2 separate regions of the Homo sapiens genome follow, and region 2 is linked to region 1. The links come from fine-mapping of genetic effects on gene expression. A gene starts in region 1. The other region holds a variant in brackets. All regions are shown on one strand. Distances are from middle to middle.

Region 1 (8,000 bases):
GCTTCCTTTACTTCCCCAGACACCTGCATGGGGTGGCAGGGCAAGAGGTGAGGCATTAGTTACCTGTGTGAACCTGGCCCTATTTCAAATAAGACCTGCCTCGGTTTGCAAAGAAATCTCAGGAAAGGCGTCTCAGGGCCCCTTGTGCAAGCAGCAGGCTCAGGAATTCCTTGACTCCCATCCAAACCTCCCCCCAGCCCCTTCTTGGCCTTTCTCTCTGCTCATTACCATCCACACCACCTCCCACCCACCGGGAAAAAGAGAAGGTCATCGCCAAAGGGGCCCAGGGAAGGGGAGCCTTCTGGAGGATAGAGCAGGGTGGGGTAAGAGCTGTTTACCCACACCCCAGCTCCCCTTAGCTCATCTCCCCTCCCATCCAAGGGCCAGCAAAAATTCAAAATCATTCAGCCACGCATAGCTGAGAACAGAGTGAAAAGAAATCTTAACTCTGTCCCACCAGAGAGCAGAGCATAAGGTGACATCAAGGGTGACAGTGGACCCTTCTTCTTTGGGCACCCACTTTTGAGAGGACAGGAGGAGGCTCTAGTGCCACTATGGGGAAGAGGGTGGACCTGACTCTGCTGGCTGGGTGGAAGCTGTCCTGCTGGAGGCCCCAGGTAATCTGGCAGCTTTCAGGGGACCTGGGATTCTTCCTCAGGTCTCTACTGATACTGTTCACTATGTCTGCAGCATGCACCCTTGAACTTCAGCAGAGCCTAGTGTGCCACCCACAGACGGTTTTATTATATTTCCATGAAAATGCCTTGGGAGTAATGCCTTTTGCTCCTTGTTATTTAGGATACCCTGGCCAGTGTTGGGCACACAGCAGGTGCTCAGTAAGTGCTGACTTGACTCCATGCAGGGTTCTACAGACCAGAACTTAACTCTGAGATCAGTGACTCCTCCCTCTGGCTCCCAGAACTGAGAGTGAGAGTGTGGAATAAAATGAAGATGCAGGTCAGGAGCTAGCTTGAGCCTCTGGCCTTGACCCTCTGCCTGGCAGCCCCACAACAAGCCTTTGCGTGAGGAGCTGAGCTCTCCAGTAGTGTCTAGGACCTTGAGACTGGAAGTTTATTTTGAGATTTGAAGCTCCAAAGAGGCAGATCCCAGAAAACCTCTTCTCTGGCTCCATATTTGTTCTCTAGTTAAGTGGTTGAGTGCAGCTCTTGCAGTCAGCTGGCTCCTGCAGCCTGGGATTCCTCCCGGGGAACTGGGGACTCAGAGGAGAGGGGACAAAGAAGCAGAAGGAGCCAAGCCTCATCCTAGGTTGTCCACTCTGGGGGCAGAGGTGACTTGTAAACCTTAGAGAGAAGTCTAGTCCCCTCACCCACTTCCTTCCCTCTCAGAGCTGCTGATGTTTCTGGCTGTACCCCCCTCACCCCTCCCTTCAGCTCAGAAACATGCTTTAAAATTTTTTTTATTTCTATTTATTTATTTTGAGACAGGGTCTCACTCTGTTGCCCAGGCTGGGTGCAGTGGTGCATTCATGCCTCACTGCAGCCTTGACTTCCTGGGCGTAAACAATCCTGTTGCCTCAGCCTCTCAAGTAGCTGGGACCACAGGTGTGCATGACCACACCTGGCTAATTTAAAAAATTTTTTGGGTCTCACCGTATTGACCAGGCTAGTCTCTAACTCCTGTGCTCAAGCCATCCTCCCAACTCGGCCTCCCAATGTGCTGGGATTACAGGCGTAAGCCACCAAGCCTGGGCCTCAAAAACATGCTTTAATACTTGAGCATCTGTGTTGTGCCAAGACACAGTCCCACTTGACTGTAAAGACAGCTCAGGCCAAAGAAGGGGCCTCAGAAGTGATTTGGGGGCCCATGTGGGCGAGTCCACTCTAGGTTAGGGCTGATGTGATCATCTTCAGCCAACTTTCCCCCTCCCTGCGCTTTCCACCAACCCCAGGCCCTGTGTAGAAATAAACACAGGGCCAGAGTCACACCCAGGTCTAAACACACAGGGGAGTCTGGGAGAGGCTGCTGGAGCTCCAAGACTGCCCTGTGTAGGGATGGGGCTGGGTTGGGAGGAGGTAAAAGAGTGGTCCAAGGAAAGAGGCCCAGCCAAGAAGGAGCCTGGGCTCATTCCTCTCCCACCTGCCCCTCTCAGGAAAACTAAGCACAGAGTCTGTGCCTTTCTAAGGAAATAGCCAGGCCAACTGGAGCCCACCCGACAAAAAGAAAGGGAGAGAAGGGGAAGAAAATAAGTTAGCCTGTTGGCCACAAAGGATATGGTCCCAGTTTCTGTGCCAGGAAGTCGGCCCTGAGAAGTGTCTGTATTCAGTCCTCTCCAACTCCCATCCAACTCCAGCCCAGCCCCCACTTTCCACCCAAGTGGGGAGCACTGCCTCCCATTCATGACTTGGAGCACCTCAGGGACTCATCTGAATTCTCTTCCTCCACGCACTCCGCTCCAGCTGGATGGCCTTCTCGATAACCCTCGTACACCAGCCCACTCCTGCCTTTGGGTCCCTGTACGGGCTCTGCCCTCGGCTTAGGATGCTCTTCACCAGGAAGCTGCCTGGCTTGATTCCTTGCCTCCTTCAAATCTCTGCTTGCATGTCACCTTAATGAGGCCTACCCTGATCATCCTAGTTGCAACTGTAACCATCCCCTTGACTGTGCTCTCTTTACCACTGCACTTACTACTTTTTAACATACTCTGTTTTACTTCTGATGTTTATTGTTTATGGTCTATCCTCCTGCAATAGAAGGCAAACTCCATGAGGGCATAGACTGTTCACCAATGGGTCCCTAGTGCCTAGCACAGTCCTGGCATGTGGTAGGAAATAAGTATTTGTTGAATTAATGAATGCACTCATCACCTTACCACAGAAAGTGGGGGTAAAGGAGTGTCACTGTAGGTTGGGGACAGGAGGGAAGTGCTTGCAGCCCCTTCCCACTCTGCCCGCCCACAGAAGTTGGGGCTGCGGAGTGAGGGGCGCTAGGACCCGGAGGCGGTGGGGAGAGAGGTTAAAGGTTCCTCTGAAACCTTCTCCACTATCTCTGTCTCTGAGATGTCTGCAGCCAGCTGCACCCCATCTGCTTACACTCGGGAGGCACCTCTAACGCCACCACCGCCCCCCACCCCCAACCAAAGACTGACAGTGAATTTGGAGTTGGGGGCATCGGCAGTTACTAGTAAGTTGTTTACCCCAGGACTTTAAAATCATATGAGGAGGCAGGAAAGACACCTGCGAGGTGGGAGAAACTGAGGCTGAAGAAGCGACTGGAGCCAGATCCCAGGTGAACTCTGAACTCTCGAAGTTAAGCCCAGGATTTTAAAAAGAATTTTACTTCTGACGGAGGGCCACAGTGCCCGCAGGGCCCGTACCTGCTATCCTGGGAGGTTTGAGGGTTGGGGTGGTGGGGAGAGGAGAGTCTCTTTCGGCAGACTGCACCTCCCCACCCCTTCCCTATTTACCACGCCCCCAGGCGCTGTGCGGGCGGAGGGAGGGTGAAGGAGCAGTGGGGAGGAGGCAGGGCGAGAAGACGAAGGAGGGAAAAAGCTCCAGGGCTTCCACTCTCTCGGCAGGACCCCCACCCTGGCCTCTGGTGCGGGAAAACCTCCCAGCTGTTTCTGATTCTTTCATACTCTCAGCCCCGCCCGAGAGGGTGGAGGACCGAGGCACAGAGGGGGAGCGGGGAGAGACTGAGCTCCGCTGAGCCCAGGAGTAAGGGGCGGGGAGTCCGCAGGTGCCCCCTTAGCGTCGGCAGTCGATTCCCGGTCCGTAAAGAAAAGCACCCGGGCCGGGCAGGCCGGGCAAGCAGGAGCCAGGTCTAAACGTGATGCATTGGGGGTGGGGGGTGCAGTGGCTCAGAAGAAGCAGGGGCGATGAGCTCTAGCTGAAAGCATCCCCTGCTAGAAGCCGACTGCCCACGGCGCTCCTGTAGGCAGTGTTGAAAAGGTAGTTAAGACCTCCAACTCCCGGTGGCAGGGACTCTACCCATTTCACAGAAGCGCAAGGATGGAGGAAATGAGTGCATCCTCCGTGCTCAGCGCCGGTGTCACTGTAGGTTGGGGACAGGAGGGAAGTGCCCGCATCCCCTTCCCGCTCCGCCAGCCTGGCCGTCACCCATAGAAGTGGGGCTGCTGAGTGAAGGGCGCTAGGACCCGGTGGCGCGGTGTCGGCAGGGACTGGGCGCTTGGGGCGCAGGAGGGAGCCGCGGCGTCCCGTCGCAGCGTGCGGGAGCAGGTGGGGGTGCAGCGCGGTGGCGCGCGGGAGCCCCGAGGGGCGGAGGCGGCTGCTACACCTAGGGCGTCGCGGAGCGCCCCGGGCTTGGCGCGGGCGGAGCCGCCCTAAGGGCCGCGCGTGTCCCCGGCCTCGGCCCCGCCCCGTCCCGTCCAATGAGAGCCCGCGGCCGAAGGGGCTGTCCGCACACTAGGCCCGCAGCTCCCTTCAGCGCCGCAGACCCCCTGACACCGCACCCGGTCCTCAGGCAGCGCGCCCCAGACCCCGGGTTCGGCACGCCGTCGTCGGCTTCCGGACATCGCAACTTGCGCCCCTCTCGGGGATCCTCCTCCCGGGCTCTGGACCCCAGGTGATCCTAGGTCCCCAGCCGCCGGCGAACACCATGGCCCCCCAGGGGGGTGAGGTAGGAGCAGCCTGAGTACCCCCAGAAGGTGCCCCGTCCACGCCCCTCCGGGCTGCGCGGCGGGAGTCTTCGGGGAGCTATGCTGAGACCGGGTGGTGCGGAGGAAGCTGCGCAGCTCCCGCTTCGGCGCGCCAGCGCCCCGGTCCCTGTGCCGTCGCCCGCGGCCCCCGACGGCTCCCGGGCTTCGGCCCGCCTAGGTCTTGCCTGCCTTCTGCTCCTGCTGCTGCTGACGCTGCCGGCCCGCGTAGACACGTCCTGGTGGTAAGTGTGGCTCTCAGGCTGGGCGGGTGAGGCGCTTGGTAGGAGAGGCCGGAGGCGCCTGGAGGGACTGGCTGCTCACGGGACCAGGCTGTTGCTTCGACGGGTTGGAGACGATTCGGGCAGGACTGTCACTGAAATCTGAAGTCGCGGGGTGGCGGGAGGGTGAGGCGCCGCGTCTTACACGACTGGTGAGAAAGGCGCTGGGCATTCGGAGCAAGGATGCCCGGTGGTCGCGGCTCCTTAGGCCTCCACGTGCTGTACCCCCTCTATTTCAGCTCAAGCCCCTTAGGGCAGAAGCTACCTTCCGAGTTTCCCTCAGGGTGAGTTCAAGGAACGAATAACCTTCCAGGGCCCGCAATAGCTTCGCCAGGGCCCCAATCGCCTAAGGTCGCCCTCTGAGAGGTGGAGAAAGGGGCAGCTCGCTAGTCTAGCCCACCCATACCACAGGAAGGCTTTGGTGAGGCAGCAGCACCCAGCCGAGGCTTAGAAATGGAATCGAGGCAAAATTTACCCCATTAACTCCCACAATTAAAACAAACAAAACGCATGGGTTTGCATTATCTAGGCATTTGTCTTCAGCCACCGTTTTGAGGATGTCACTTAGGAAACTTTGCCTCCCTCCCTTCTTCCTATTCTTTCCCATCTCCCATTTCTCCCCTCCAAGAGCCAGAGGGCTGCGGAGTCCCAAGATACTAAGAGACCCCCTCCCCAGATTTCTTGCAGGCCCTAGACTCCAGACACTTCACAAGAGGGCAGATGAGGCAAAAAGGCATTACAGATCCACTGGATGTCTCGTGTCTGTTCTTTTTAGAATCCTCCCTGCCCCCTACTCCTTGGATGGCACTCATCACCTTCCCGTAGGAGAAGGAGCTGCTTTCCCTTCTTCCCCACCATGGGGAGAGGGCAAAGCAGGGAGAGTTGAACCTAGAAAAGACTCAGTCTTTCCTCTTCACCCCACAATCAAACTGGCCTCTTGGACTAGGCTATTGCCCCTCTCCACCAGGCAGTGCCTCCCGTCCTTTCCTTACTCCGTTCTTCTTCCCGTGCAAGCCCCCCTCCCCGAAATGTGGTCTCTTCTCTCCTTGCACCCTGTGGCTTTTCTCCTCTTGACTTGGAATCTTGGCTGAAGGGTGAGGGGTAGCTGGCCGAGGGGCCCGCCAGCTTGGGCTGCAGATTCCTATCATTTCAAGATGCCGTCTCTCCTTATCCCAACCCCCACCCCCTGTTTTCCTGTTTCAGAAAAATCTCTTTTGAATTTTTTTTTTTTAAATCTCTGCAGTGTTGGGGAAGGCAAGGAGGGGGGGTTCTGGTTGGGGGAACAGAGAGGCCTATATCTTACATCTGGCTTGAAACATTCTTTTAGAAAGGGAAAGGGGAGAAGGGGGATGAGGAGAAAAACCTTTCAAAGTTCTGAGTGAGATCAAAGCTACCTTTTGCCTTCATGAGCTTGGTCTGGCTGGGGACTTGGCATCTTCAGGGTCTTTGTTGAGACAACATGAAGTAACCGCTGCCCATCTTTATCTGGCTCAGACAGCAGTTTGCTTTTTGGGACTCTTGATTGCTTCTTACCAGTTTGGGATATAGTCTTGGGGACCAATTGGTGTTTGGGTGAGGAAGTGTCACTCTGGTAATTTCAGCATCCTGGCAGTGGTTCCTAAAGACCCAAATGGGGGTCTTCCTAGTTCCCATTTTGTACTCTTGACTACTCCCTCTCCCTTTTCCTTTCTCCCTCTACTACCCTCCCCTGATGTGGTTCATATTAAAGATTCTGGAAAAATTCCTGGGTGAAAGAGCTAGGGAGGGAGGGAGGGAGGGAGGTGACACAGAGTGACTTAGCAGCCCCTGTGAAAAGGAGGAAGGCTGCAACAGGGCCAGGTTGGGAAGTGGGTACAGAGGTTGTTTCAGCCTCCTTGCTCCACACCTGTCATAGCTACAGGCCCAGATGCCTGCCTCAGTGATCACCACTTGTGGGATAAGGTGAAAAGCTACCTTCTAAGGGCAGGCTAAGCCCCCAAGCCTTTCTCTTAGGAAAAAACCAGCAAGATTGATGTTCTGTACAACCCGTGGAAGAGAAATGCCTGTTGACTCTGGTGTGTCCATGTTCCACTCTGGAGCAGAAGGCCATCATTTTCACCAGTTAATATTTGGATTTTTCTCATAGCTTGAGATTCTTCCCCTTACTCTCTAACCACTGCCCTCCCTCTATCTATCCTAAACAGACCAAGAAATAGGGAGCTTCCGGCATGTGCTTTCCTGTTTCATTTTGCATTCTGTAGGGGGTTGGATGTAGGGAATCACAAGAACAGGATTGTATTCATAGGCTCACAAAGGGAGAGAAACACAAAGTGGTATCATATTGTTAGCACTACTTTTACCAACAGCAGTTGCTTTTAATAAGCCCTTACTGAGCTTCAGGCACTATGGCCAAACACCTTATGAGCATGATCTTTGTCAATCTGAAATAATCCAGTGAGATGGGTTCTATTATCATCCTTATTTCACAAATGAAAGTGAGGGATGCTGTGGCATTAAGAGCAGATTCATGGAGGCTAATAGTGTTATCTCTGTGTTCAAAGTTCTATATGTGCTGGGCTGAATCATGTACACTAGGGGCTGTACACGAAAGGAGGAAAGAAAAAAAAAAAGCAGATCCCTGGCCCGTTTGTGTCTTTAACATACAAACATAAAACATCTGCAGATAGGCTGGCAACTGTTGACAAGTAAAGCTGTAATGGAAATGGGAGTTAATGGCTGGCTAGAGGGAGAAGGGAGTTGGGGATAAATCAGAACAGTTAGGTGTTTATTCAACAAATAGTGATTGCATACCTACTATGTGCCAGGCACTGTTCTCAGTACTGGGGATATTGAATTGAACAAAACCGACAAAAATCCCTGCCTTTGTGGAGTGGTGCATCCAAACCATGTGAGGATCATGGTGAAATGCAGATTCTGTTACGGTAGGCCTTGGGTGGGGCCTGAATGTCTGCATTTCTAACGAATCCCCACATGATACAGATACTGCTGTTCTGGGGACCACACTTTGAGTAGCAAGGGGCTAGAGTAGTGTATGCCTCACTTTGTCAAATGAAGGGATGTGAATTGGCCAAAAGCAGGTGAAGAGAAGCATTCTGGGGCAGGAAGCT
Region 2 (12,340 bases), 56 kb before region 1:
AAGTGGAAAAAAAAAAAAAAACAACATAGCTGGGTGAGGTGGTATGTGCCTTTAGTCCCAGCTACTCAAGAGGCTGAGGTGGAAGGATCACTTGAGCCCAGGAGGTCAAGGCTGCAGTGAGCTGTGATCACACCATTACACTGCAGCCTGGTTGACAGAGCCAGACCCTGTCTCAAACAAAAAAGAAAAAAGAAAAAAAAAATTTGATACTTTCAGTGAGTTACAGGTAATCAATTTCAGGTTTTTATAGCTGAATTTAAAGAAACATGGTAAAAGGGAAACATTGATGAGTCCCATGTTGTTTGGCACTGTTGCTTTTAAAATACAACTAGCTTTTTGGTTTTACTTTCAGTATGTTTTATTTATTTATGTATTTTTAGAAACAGGTTCTTCTTCTGTTAACCAGGCTGGAATGTAGTGGTATAATCAGAGCTCATAGCAGCCTAGATCCTAGGCTCAACCAATCCTCCTGCTTCAGCCTCCCAAGTAGCTGGGGCTACAGGCACATGCCGTCATGCCCAGCTAATTTTTTGTTTTTTGTAGAGACAAGGTCTCCCTATTTTGCCCAGTTTGGTCTTAAACTCCTGGGCTCAAGTGATTCTCCTGCCTCTGCCTCCCAAAGTGCTGGGATTACAGACATGAGATGCTGCGGCCGGCTATTCACCATGTTTTAAAATAAGAAGAAGAATGGCTGGTTCTGGAGCTGATCTTTTCTTTCTCCATCCTAAATGGACTGGAGGTTATTTTGAAATTTTACTGTGAATTTCCTTTTTAACTTGGAGCTGAAAAAAGTAGGGTTTCAGCCAGGCGCAGTGGCTCACGCCTGTAATCCCAGCACTTTGGGAGGCCAAGGCGGGTGGATCACGAGGTCGGGAGATCGAGACCATCCTGGCTAACATGGTGAAACCCCGTCTCTATTAAAAAATACAAAAATTAGCCGGGCGTGGTGGTGGGCACCTGTAGTCCCAGCTACTTGGGAGGCTGAGGCAGGAGAATGGCGTGAACCCAAGAGGTGGAGCTTGCAGTGAGCCAAGATTGTGCCACTGCTCTCCAGCCTGGGCGACAGAGCGAGACTCCATCTAAAAAAAAAAAAAAAAAAAAAAAAAGTAGAGTTTCATCTTAGACTCTGTGTTTTATACCTCCCCCACTTTTAATTCACACACACACACACAACACACCATAAGGCTAGAAAGATAGTTATTAGTAACTTAAAGAAATGGATTTCTCTCTTCATATTTCCAGTATACAAATAACATCCAAATACTCCAGTAATGTCATAAAGTAAGATGGCTGCAGTCAAGCCAGAAGTAAAACCCAGAATTTCTAACTGCTTTGAACATTTGCCAGCTGATAAGAACGTAAAATTTTACCATAAGGCTAAGTGATTCCTGGGGCCTAAATTGGACAGTCAATGAAGAAGAAGTCTTCAGATTTTCAGCACTGAAATACTTCTGTGTTAAAAAAAAAACCCATGTTTGCTTTATTTTCTTAAAGTTTCCTTTAAATTAAAGCATAGCCAATGAATTGCAAATTTCCCTTTTTTTTAAACAGGCTCCTATTTGTGGATGGCAGTGCTAAGAAAACATGACTACTGATTAGTTTTTTAAAATGGATAAATAATAGTAGTTTTCATAACCAGATTTAATTTGAAAGCTTAAATTATATAGTACTTTGCTGTGACTTTTTAGTTTCTTCAACCCTGTGTTAACACTTCATTTTTCATTGTAAAATATCTCAAGAAACTTTTAAATATCTGTGTAATAAGTAAAAAGTAATGTACATGTAATGTATGATGCTCATGTGGAGTTCTTCAAGCTCTTCCTACAGAGATAAGGAAAGAGGGAAGCCTAGGAATATCTTTCCACCCACTTCCTGATCCTTATACTCCCAACTGGGTACCCAGGGCTAACGTCCTTGACCAGACTCCAGGCACCAGCTTGCATCCCTTTCTTACATGCTCATCCCCAAGGCTCATCAAGCCTTGAAAGAGACAGAAAAGAGAATGGAAAGTAACAACCAGAGACAAGAAGAGGGGGTGGAATTTGGCAGCAGGTGGAAGAGGTTTTGTCTGCATGTCTGGTTATGAGGTGCCTCCATCCTCCTTGACCCATCAACAACTGAGTAATGGTTCATATGTACAGGTCACAAGTAGTCCTAGATTGTAATGTGATCCTGCTTATATTTTGCACACTTTATATATCTGCTGGCATTTTGTTAGGTCTCTAAATATATAAACTCATAAAATTATCATACTTAACATGTTTTAGAAATGCTAGTACCATAACACGGAAAAAAATAAGATGTACCTGCTGGTAATATAAGCATTCATAAGCAGATATAAGCAGAGTCAGTAAGCACAGAGGTTAAGGACACAGACTTCGGGGCCAGGTTGCCTGGGTTTAAATCCCAATTCAGACAGCTTGCTAGATGAGTAACCAGGAATAGTTTTCTCATCAGCAAAATCGAGATGATAGCACTACCTTACAGGGTTGTAAATTTTAAACAAGTTAATCTGACTATAAATATTTAAAACAATGTCTAATACATAGTGCTTTATAAGTATTTGTTCTTGTTAATATACCATGCCACCTTTCTAATGCTGTTTCTTTAGATGGCTCAATCTGACTTGTAATTAGTAGGTTACATTTATACTAATACCACAACCTTTAATGTATAACCACTGGATAGCAAATCCCCCTTCCTCAGTAGTTTTAAAAAGCAAGATGCTTATTTTTTTTCCTCTTTCCCAGGCCCAACACAGAGATACTTTCATTGAAGAACGCTATGGAAAATATAACATCAGTGATCCTTTAATGGCTCTACAGAGAGATTTTGAAACACTGAAGGAGAAAAATGATGGCGAAAAGCAGCCAGTCTGCACAAATCCACTCTCTATTCTTAAGGTTGTGATGAAGCAGTGCAAGAACATGCAGGAGCGCATGCTGTCCCAGCTGGCTGCTGCTGAGAGCAGGCACCGAAAGGTAGGTTCACCTCAGTTGATGTGTAAATCTTTGTGAAGTCTTTATAAATTATGCCTGATACTTTCTTGTCAGCTGCCAGTTTTTCACAGTAATTCAATTGGGACATCTCACGGGTATCAAAAAGCCCCTTAGTTTATGTAAGAGCCAGGAGATAAAAAAGAAAACACAGCTTATTGCAAATGTTAAGTTTAGAGAACGTGCCAGACACGTTATTTAAGACAGCATTTCTTCTTGATATGTCACTCCAAAACACTTTGTATGTTTTTTCAGTTCTTGATCATTCAAACTTTGGGGTTTGGCCAAGCTTGTAGCTGACGGGAGTGTTCTCTATTTGCTTACTTAAGAGATAAATAAAAAGATTAACAGGTATTTGAGGCATGCTATATCCAAGGGAGAGAAAGAATTTACCTGAGGATAAACACAGAAGCCAATAGATTATTTTCATTTATTCCTATTATTCCTAGTTTTGAGTTTCATTGCATTTTGTTGCTCATGAAACCATAAACAGTCCCTTGGTTTATTTACCTTAAAGGTGTTCTACTCTATTAGTGAGGGGTGTGTGTGTGTGTGTGTGTGTGTGTTTTCCATATTTAACAAGCCCTAAAATAGGAAGGCAAACCTTATGGTTATTTACAGTATTTACTTTAAAGCTGTTCTACCCTATTAGTAAAGAGTGTGTGTGTGTGTTTCCATTTCTAACAAGCCCTAAGAAGGCAAACCTGTGCTTTCCTCTGCTTCATCTTACTGGAATTCTAGTGCTTGTGAATTTATTCACCAACTTGTCATCTTGTCATTTACTCCTCAAATTTGGCCTGTAAAAGATGCTTGGCTACAATCTTCATTTTTAAAACACTGTCAGTTTAGATTTATGCCAACAAGGCAGTTATCAGTGCATTTGGTAGGAAACATTTTCATCTGAAAAATAGGGTTAGCAGCTGCAAAATTTGGTGGACCTTACTTTTATGGTTATCAGCATTAGAGCCATCTTCTTAAATTGCATCTGATACATTTTCTAGGCTCTGGATCTTGCCCGTGATCTTTTCTTTCCCTTCACAGAAGCCAAATGAAAGGCCAGAGTGGAACTTCTTAACCATGGATAGGCCTCAGATGTTCCACAGTCCCCCAGAAAATAGACAGAATGTTCAGAGTTTATGCATTTTTGTAGGAAATGTATTTTTTCCATAGCTTTAATCAGATTCTCCAAGTTACCCAAGACCCAAAAATGTTTAACCTCTGGTTAGAATGAAGTAATCTGAAAACATTTACACTCCAATTTAAAAGGTATCAGTGGGTGGGAGTTAGTTGCCTAAATTGGGTGGAGGGGGAGCTTTTACATAATTCTCTAAAAATCTTCACAACATTCTTGTTTAATAGGCAGGCTTTATTTCCACTTCATCCATGAGGTGACTGAGTTGTGTTGAAGCTAGTTGGGCTAGCTTTCATGCCCATGGAAGGTGTACTAGGGACAGTTTGTGTTTCTAGGTGATTGGAGAGAGGAAGAAGTTAAAAATAATTCAAAATTTCTTAATACTATATTGCAGTGCTAAATGTTTTAAGTGAATATTAAATTTTTGAAACAAAGTACCTATCTATTCTTTTTTTTTTTTTTTTTGAGGTGAAGTCTCACTCTGTCACCCAGGCTGGAGTGCAGTGGTACAATCTTGGCTCACTGCAACCACCACCTCCCAGGTTCAAGTTTAAGTGGTTTATCAAAGTAGAAGACTGACTTTGTTAGAAATCAAACAGTACCTAGAGGCTTATAATTAGGGTGCTCATAGTCTCAGCTTATGCCTGTCACCTTGGCTTAGTTATTAACCATATTCCCTTTGACTGTCAGAAATGTTCTGGTTTGAATAATAAATTACATGGTCATTGTGCTTACAATGAAAAACAGTTTTCTATTCCACCTCTTCTCATTCCCCATCCTCCCCAGTATTCACAGGCAACCAGTTTTTTCTTTTAGCCATTCACTTTGGTAGCTAACCTCCATATTTCTAAATACTGCACTGTTCTCTCTTGCTTTATCAATTTTAGACATTTATATTACTTTCTTTTATATAGGTGCAGATTTAGTTATCTTACACCCCGCCTCCCTTTCCTCTCCTTAACCCTTACCCAGAACAAATTTAATCCTCTTTTCCCACCACCATTCTCTGTCACATCTACTATTCCCAAATCCTGAGCCTGTCACACTATTTCTTGAATGTGACAGGCTCAGGATTTGGGAATAGTAGATGTGACAGAGGCCAGATGCTGATGGTCTGTGTGCAGGAATCAGGGTGAAGGGACAAATAATTCTGAAAATACAGGCTTTGAAGGCCAGACACAGTGACTCATGCCTGTAATCCCAGCACTTTGGGAGGCCAAGACAGGCAGATCACTTGAGGTCAGGAGTTCGAGGCCAGGCCAGCCAACATGGTGAAACCCCATCTCTGCTAAAAATACAAAAATTAGCCAGGCATGGTGGCGTTCCTGTAATCCCAGCTACTCGGGAGGCTGAGGCAGAAGAATAGCTTGAGCCCAGGAGGTGGAGGTTGCAGTGAGCTGAGATCACACCACTGTAATCCAGCTTGGGTGACAGAGCAAGACTGTCTCAAAAAAAAAAAAAAAAACACAAAACAAACAAACAAAAAAACAGGCTTTGAGCCAGTTCTCCTGTTTTCTATTCTACATTTCACCTCTCCTCTGCAGTACCTGCCACCTCCAGGTTCCATCTCTTTGGGGCTCTGCAAGGCAAAACAGCTTCCCTCCTTCAAA[G/C]TAAAGTAGTTACCACAACTCCAGCCTCTTTTCTTCTTCAAAATATTATTAAAATTTTTTCTCTGCTAGAGGCTCTCTCCTTTGTGGGGTTTTAGTCTTTTTATTCCATTTCTGTAATTTTTGAGGACTCCCAAAAGGGAGAAGATAAGACTTACCACTTTTGGCCAAAAGCATGTCTTTCTATTAAATTGAAAAATTAGATTAAAAAAAGGAAATGTGCCAAATTTTTTTTCTTTCATTTATTTTGAGAGACAGGGTCTCGCTGTGTTGCCTGGGCGGGAGTACAGTGGCTATTAACAGGTGCGATCATAGCACCCTATAGCCTGGAACTCTTGGGCTCCAGTGATCCACCTCAGCCTCCCTAGTATCTGGGACTACAAGCATACACCACAGCACCAGTCTCTTCTTTTTTTTTTTTTTTTTTTTTTTTTTTAGACAGAGTTTCACTCTTGTTGCTCAGGCTGGAGTGCAATGGCACAATCTTGGCTCACCACAACCTCTGCCTACTGGGTTCAAGCGATTCTCCTGCCTCAGCCTCCCGAGTAGCTGGGATTACAGGCATGTGCCACCATGCCTGGCTAATTTTGTATTTTTAGTAGAGACAGGGTTTCTCCATGTTGGTCAGGCTGGTCTCGAACTCCCAACCTCAGGTGATCCACCTGCTTTGGCCTCCCAAAGTGCTGAGATTACAGGCATGAGCCACCACTCCTGGCCTCTTTTTTTTTTTTTGAGACAAAGTCTCACTCCGTTGCCTGGGCTGGAGTGCAACGGCATAATCATGGCTCACTGCAACCTCGACCTCCCTGGGCTGAGGTGATCCTTCCACCTCAGCCTCCTGAGTAGCTGGGACTACATGCACACCTCACCATGCCTGGCTAATTTTTGTACTTTTTTGTAGAAATGGGGTTTTGGGTTGGGCACAGTGGGTCACACCTGTAATCCCATCACTTTGGGAAGCTGAGGCAGAAGGACCACTTGAGTCCAGGTGTTTGAGACCAGCCTGGGCAACATGGCGACACCCCATTTCTACAAAAAATCAGCAGGCCATAGTGGTGTATGCCTGTAGTCTCAGCTGCTCAGGAGGCTGAGGTGGGAGGATCACTTGAGCCTAGGAGGCAAAGATTGCAGTGAGCCGAGATGATGCCACTGCATTTCAGCTTGGGTGAGAGTAAGACCCTGTCTCCTCAAAAGGAAGGAAGGGGGTGGGGGAGGGAGAGGGAGAGGGAGAAATAAATGGCTGGTCTCAAACTCCTGTGCTCAAGCAATCCTCCTGCCTCTGCCTCCCAAAAGTGCTGGGATTACAGGCATGAGCTCATTTTTATTTTTATAGACAGGTTTCATGTCCCAGAAAATTTACTCTCTTCACTCATAAAAATTTTTAGTGAGAAGACTAAGAAATGGCCTTTGGGACAAGAGTGCTCTACCCTGGAGGTCTGGGCCAAGGCACTTCTGAAGCATGAGCAGAAGCTACTAAGCAATCAGAATATTTGCAGTTGTAGATGGGATTATGTGAAAAATGTCTCTTTAAATTTGTATTCTTGGCCATGTGTGATGGCTCACACCTGTAATCCCAGCATTTTGGGAGGCTGAGGCGGGTGGATCACTTGAGCCCAGGAGTTCCAGACCAGCCTGGGCAAGATGGCAAAACCCCATCTCTACAAAAAATACTAAAATCAGCTGGGCGTGGTGGCGCACACCTGTAGTCCCAGCTACTTGGGAGGCTGAGAGGTGGGAGAATCTCTTGAGCTCGGGAGGCCAAGGCAGCAGTGAGCCATGATTGCACTACTACAGTCCAGCCTGGGTGACAAAGCAAGACCCTGTCTCGAAAAATAAATATATTTGTCTTCTCCTTAAAATTGGGCTTAATCCTTTGGCACCAGGGTAAGTGAAATAGGGGTAGGCAAGTTAAATAAAAGGGCGTATGAAAAATCTCCATTTAAGGTCTCTATATTTGAGCCTTTTTACATGCAGTAGGAAGTCAAGAGAGTCTATCCACCTCTTATCTAACTATATAAAAATGTATATTATTAGTTAAACAAGGCACACTTAGAATGTCACCTATTTGAAATGTTGAATTTCAGGCTCCTTCTTTGGTGCCTCTGGTGATTTGAGAATTGAGAAGAAAATCTCAGCTTTCAGGTTTCTGTGGTCCTGTCTTGCTCCATCACCTACACCTGGCCCCTAGTAACACCAAACTGCCTGCAGTTTCTTGGAATTTCTGTTAATTCTCGACACCTCCTCAACCCCTCTAGCTAATTAGTTGCTCTCTTCTCTCTGTTTGCATATCATTCTCTACATACTTCAAGTAAAGTAAGTATCTTACTGTTTAACACAGAGCTTTCATGTCTTTCACTGTAAGGCAGTGTGCTCCTTGATAGCCCTTGCTGGGTTTCATTTATTCGTTTGTTTGTTTGATCTCTGGAACTATCTAAGGTGCCTGATTTGGCACTTATTATTGGTTGTATTAATAAATGTGACTCCTTGATATTTGAAAATGAAATTTAAAAAATTCTTTAAAGGTGATCCTAGACCTTGAGGAAGAAAGGCAGCGGCATGCACAGGATACGGCTGAAGGAGATGATGTCACCTACATGCTAGAGAAGGAAAGAGAGAGGCTGACTCAACAGGTAATTAAGGTAGAGGGATTCACAGTAGCATTTGCCTGGAACAGCATTTCCCAAAGATTATTCTGCAGGATGCCAACTGGTATTGTTCAGAAAAGGGGCTTTGTGGTCAAATAAGTTTAGGAACTACTGGATTAAGCAAAGTTAAACAGGTTTCTAACTTTGTTAGGATCTTTAGTATGCAGAAGCACATTGTGAGTCTTCAAGAACAAGATAGGGTATTCTGTGTTTAGCAAATCCATGGTTTTATAAAATCTTTTATTGGCATAGATCCCTCACTGTGGGATTATTATTGTTCCGTAGAACACTCTTTGGGGAATGGTAACTTAGCGCTTGTAGCTCTCAAACTTTTGACTTAGAACCCCCAGTAAGAAGTGACATTTTATGTCACAACCCAGTATATGTAGACATACACAGTTACGCCTGAAACAAAAATCTCATGAAATCATATATAACCCCTACTGCTACAGTACACATTGATGTTTTCTGTTTATATATTTTTTTAAAATTCTAGTCGTGGCTCAGTTAGTTTCCCCATCCATTAATGGATCTCAGAGTTTGAAAAACACTGAGTTTCTTCAACCCTTTCCCTCTCACGCAGAGTCTCTGCCTCAAATAGGGTTGGGAAGACAATTAAAACAGGCTATATTTGTGTAAAAAATATGATTCAGGCTGGGCACAGTGGTTCACGCCTGTAATCCCAGCACTTTTGGAGGCCGAGGTGGGTGGATCACCTAAGGTCAGGAGTTTGAGACCAGCCTGACCAACATGGAAAAACCCTGTCTCTACTAAAAATACAAAATTAGGCGGGTGTGGTGGCGCATGACTGATCCCAGCTACCCGGGAGGCTGAGGCAGGAGAATCGCTTGAACCCAGAAGGCGGAGGTTGCAGTGAGCCAATATTGCACCATTGCACTCCAGCCTGGGAGACAAGAGTGAAACTCAGTCTCCAAAAAAAAGTATGATTCAAATGCAACTATTTGTGTGTGTTTGTTTCTGAGACCCAAGAAAATTATTGCTGAAACTTTAAAATGTTTGTTTTCAGCAACATTCATCACAAAATGTGGTTGATACAGCTTTCTGTTATCTTGTTTTGATTGGTTCTGATGCTCTCCACATACGTGAAACACAAAGATACGTCATATTCCCACTAATCACTGCAAGACAGTATGGGAACTAGAAGTGCCTCCCAAATCATCAAAGAAAGATTAAATCATAGTGTGTGCATTTTTTGTGTTAGGTGTTCTAAAATTTCAGAAATACTTGATCTAAGCACTGTGATGTGCATGTTAATCCTGTATACCAGAGAACAGCTAACGAAGACAGTCTACTTGATCACAGTTTGTCAGTATGTCTCTCTTTTCTTTTTTTTTCTAGTTGGAATTTGAAAAATCCCAAGTGAAAAAGTTTGAAAAAGAACAGAAGAAGCTCTCTAGTCAGCTGGAAGAGGAGCGCTCCCGCCACAAGCAGCTCTCATCCATGCTAGTGCTTGAGTGCAAGAAAGCCACCAACAAGGCAGCCGAGGAAGGACAGAAGGCAGGAGAGCTGAGCCTGAAATTGGAGAAGGAGAAGAGCCGGGTGAGTAAACTGGAAGAAGAGTTGGCAGCTGAGAGAAAGAGAGGCTTGCAGACTGAGGCCCAGGTAGAGAAGCAGTTATCAGAGTTTGACATCGAAAGGGAACAACTGAGAGCAAAACTGAACCGAGAAGAGAACCGGACCAAAACCCTGAAAGAAGAAATGGAAAGTTTAAAGAAGATAGTGAAGGACCTAGAGGCTTCCCACCAGCACAGTAGCCCTAATGAGCAATTGAAGAAACCAGTAACCGTGTCCAAAGGCACAGCAACTGAGCCTCTCATGCTAATGTCTGTGTTTTGCCAAACAGAGAGTTTTCCAGCAGAAAGAACCCATGGGAGCAACATAGCCAAGATGACAAACACTGGGCTGCCTGGTCCTGCCACTCCTGCTTACTCATATGCAAAAACCAATGGCCATTGTGACCCAGAGATACAAACTACCAGGGAGCTGACTGCAGGCAACAATGTAGAAAACCAGGTGCCTCCACGGGAAAAATCTGTGGCATTGGCCCAAGAGAAACCAGTGGAGAATGGTGGGTGTCCTGTGGGGATTGAGACTCCAGTCCCAATGCCCAGTCCCCTCTCTTCCAGTGGGAGCTCACTGTCTCCCAGCAGCACTGCCTCCTCCTCTCTAACATCCTCTCCTTGCTCTTCGCCGGTACTCACTAAGCGTTTATTGGGGTCATCAGCTAGCAGCCCTGGCTACCAGTCATCGTACCAAGTAGGGATCAACCAACGGTTCCATGCAGCTCGCCACAAATTTCAGTCCCAAGCAGATCAGGACCAACAAGCCAGTGGCCTACAGAGCCCTCCATCCAGGGATTTATCCCCCACCCTCATAGACAACTCTGCCGCCAAGCAGCTGGCCCGAAACACAGTCACTCAGGTGCTCTCCAGATTCACTAGCCAACAAGGGCCAATCAAGCCAGTCTCTCCCAACAGCTCTCCCTTTGGCACAGACTATCGAAATCTAGCCAACACTGCCAATCCAAGAGGTGACACAAGCCATTCACCTACTCCAGGGAAAGTGTCCAGTCCCCTGAGCCCCCTGTCTCCAGGAATCAAGTCCCCAACCATCCCCAGAGCTGAGAGAGGAAACCCTCCACCCATCCCACCCAAGAAACCTGGCCTCACCCCTTCTCCATCTGCTACCACTCCATTGACCAAAACTCATTCCCAGGCAGCCTCTTTGACCACTGCAGAAGACCTTGCCAGCAGCTGCTCTTCCAATACTGTTGTAGCAAATGGTAAGGATGTTGAGTTACTTTTGCCTACCAGCAGCTAGTCCCTAGGAGGGAGTCTCCACGTTTGACATTCCATCAGATTTCGTCCAAAAGCTCAGTCAGACTTCTGAGTCAGATTATGTTATTTATTTTGATAGTAGCTGAAACCATCTGTATAATACATTTAGTATATTTCACCATTTTGTATTTTTTTAAGTAGAAACTGAGTAGTTTGGATTTTTATGGCTCACATCTTTTTACTGAAGCCAGAAAGGCACCTCAAAGATGTCTCAAGCTCAGCAGTCACCGTCATGTTGTGATGAAGAAAGCGAATCACCAGGTGGTGATTTGCTATCTATTTGAGAACTAGAATCACTCAACACTCATTTTGAATTATGCAGAAGTGGTTCATGCAGATTTTTATTCCAGATGAACATGTTTTAAAAGTGCCTGAAATATGACTGCCATATGAATGTGATTCTGCAGCAAAAAACACAAAATAGATCATTTAATTACAGAAAATGAGATCCTCTGTGAATTCTGAATGTTAAAAACCAACACTGCTTTTAATCCTCTTTTAATGTTTTAATACAAGCTTTGTGTTCTGAAACAAGGCTGCATAAGTAGAATGGGAATCCTTCTAAAGGTGGGTGTGAACTCACCACAAGCTGAGCTTTATAGAGCCCTTGAGAAACCCTCCTGAGCACTAAGCAGTTGGGGTGCTGATTTTCTTGTACTTTTGAAAAATTAAGTCACTCCCAGTTTCCTGCATAAGTTCTTGAACAGAATGAAATCACATCTCCATTCAAAAAATGTCTCAAGCATCTACTGTTGTGTAAGGAACTTCTGATTCTGATTGCTGTTACTTGAATAGGAAATGGTTACTCATTCTGTATAAAAGTTTTGCAAGAGAATGAATTTTTTATTCTGTAATCAAAAAGCAATAACTTGAAATTCACTCTGTAATATTATAGGTCAGTCAGAATTATACAAGTTTTACCAAATTGTTACACTTATTCTCCAAGCTGCCAGAACCTGGTATCTGTATCTGTAAAACCAAATTAACTTTTGCTTAAATGGGAAGTATACATATATCTGTATAGATACATTACCCCTTTACATGTTTAACATACACACACTTAAACACATAAATACTAGTGTGATTATATCTTTGGAGTTTG

The links.
Region 2: its variant is fine-mapped to the expression of WNT2B in subcutaneous fat (GTEx, PIP above 0.99).

The regions. Positions count from the first base shown.
Region 1 is chr1:112,504,588-112,512,587 of GRCh38, forward strand. WNT2B (Wnt family member 2B) reads left to right here and starts at 4,378. Exons shown (of 5, transcript NM_024494.3): 1 at 4,378-4,857. The coding sequence starts at 4,676. RefSeq lists enhancers at 3,646-4,189, 5,114-5,613 and silencers at 4,167-4,296, 4,307-4,416, 4,477-4,556, 4,617-4,726, 4,720-5,014.
Region 2 is chr1:112,446,192-112,458,531 of GRCh38, forward strand. It overlaps CTTNBP2NL (CTTNBP2 N-terminal like), which reads left to right. Exons shown (of 6, transcript NM_018704.3): 4 at 2,751-2,981; 5 at 8,258-8,365; 6 at 9,740-12,340. The coding sequence ends at 11,221. Among named protein-coding and RNA genes, the nearest start is that of MIR4256, 9.5 kb to the right of the region's middle. The variant G/C (reference allele first, on the strand shown) is at 5,739.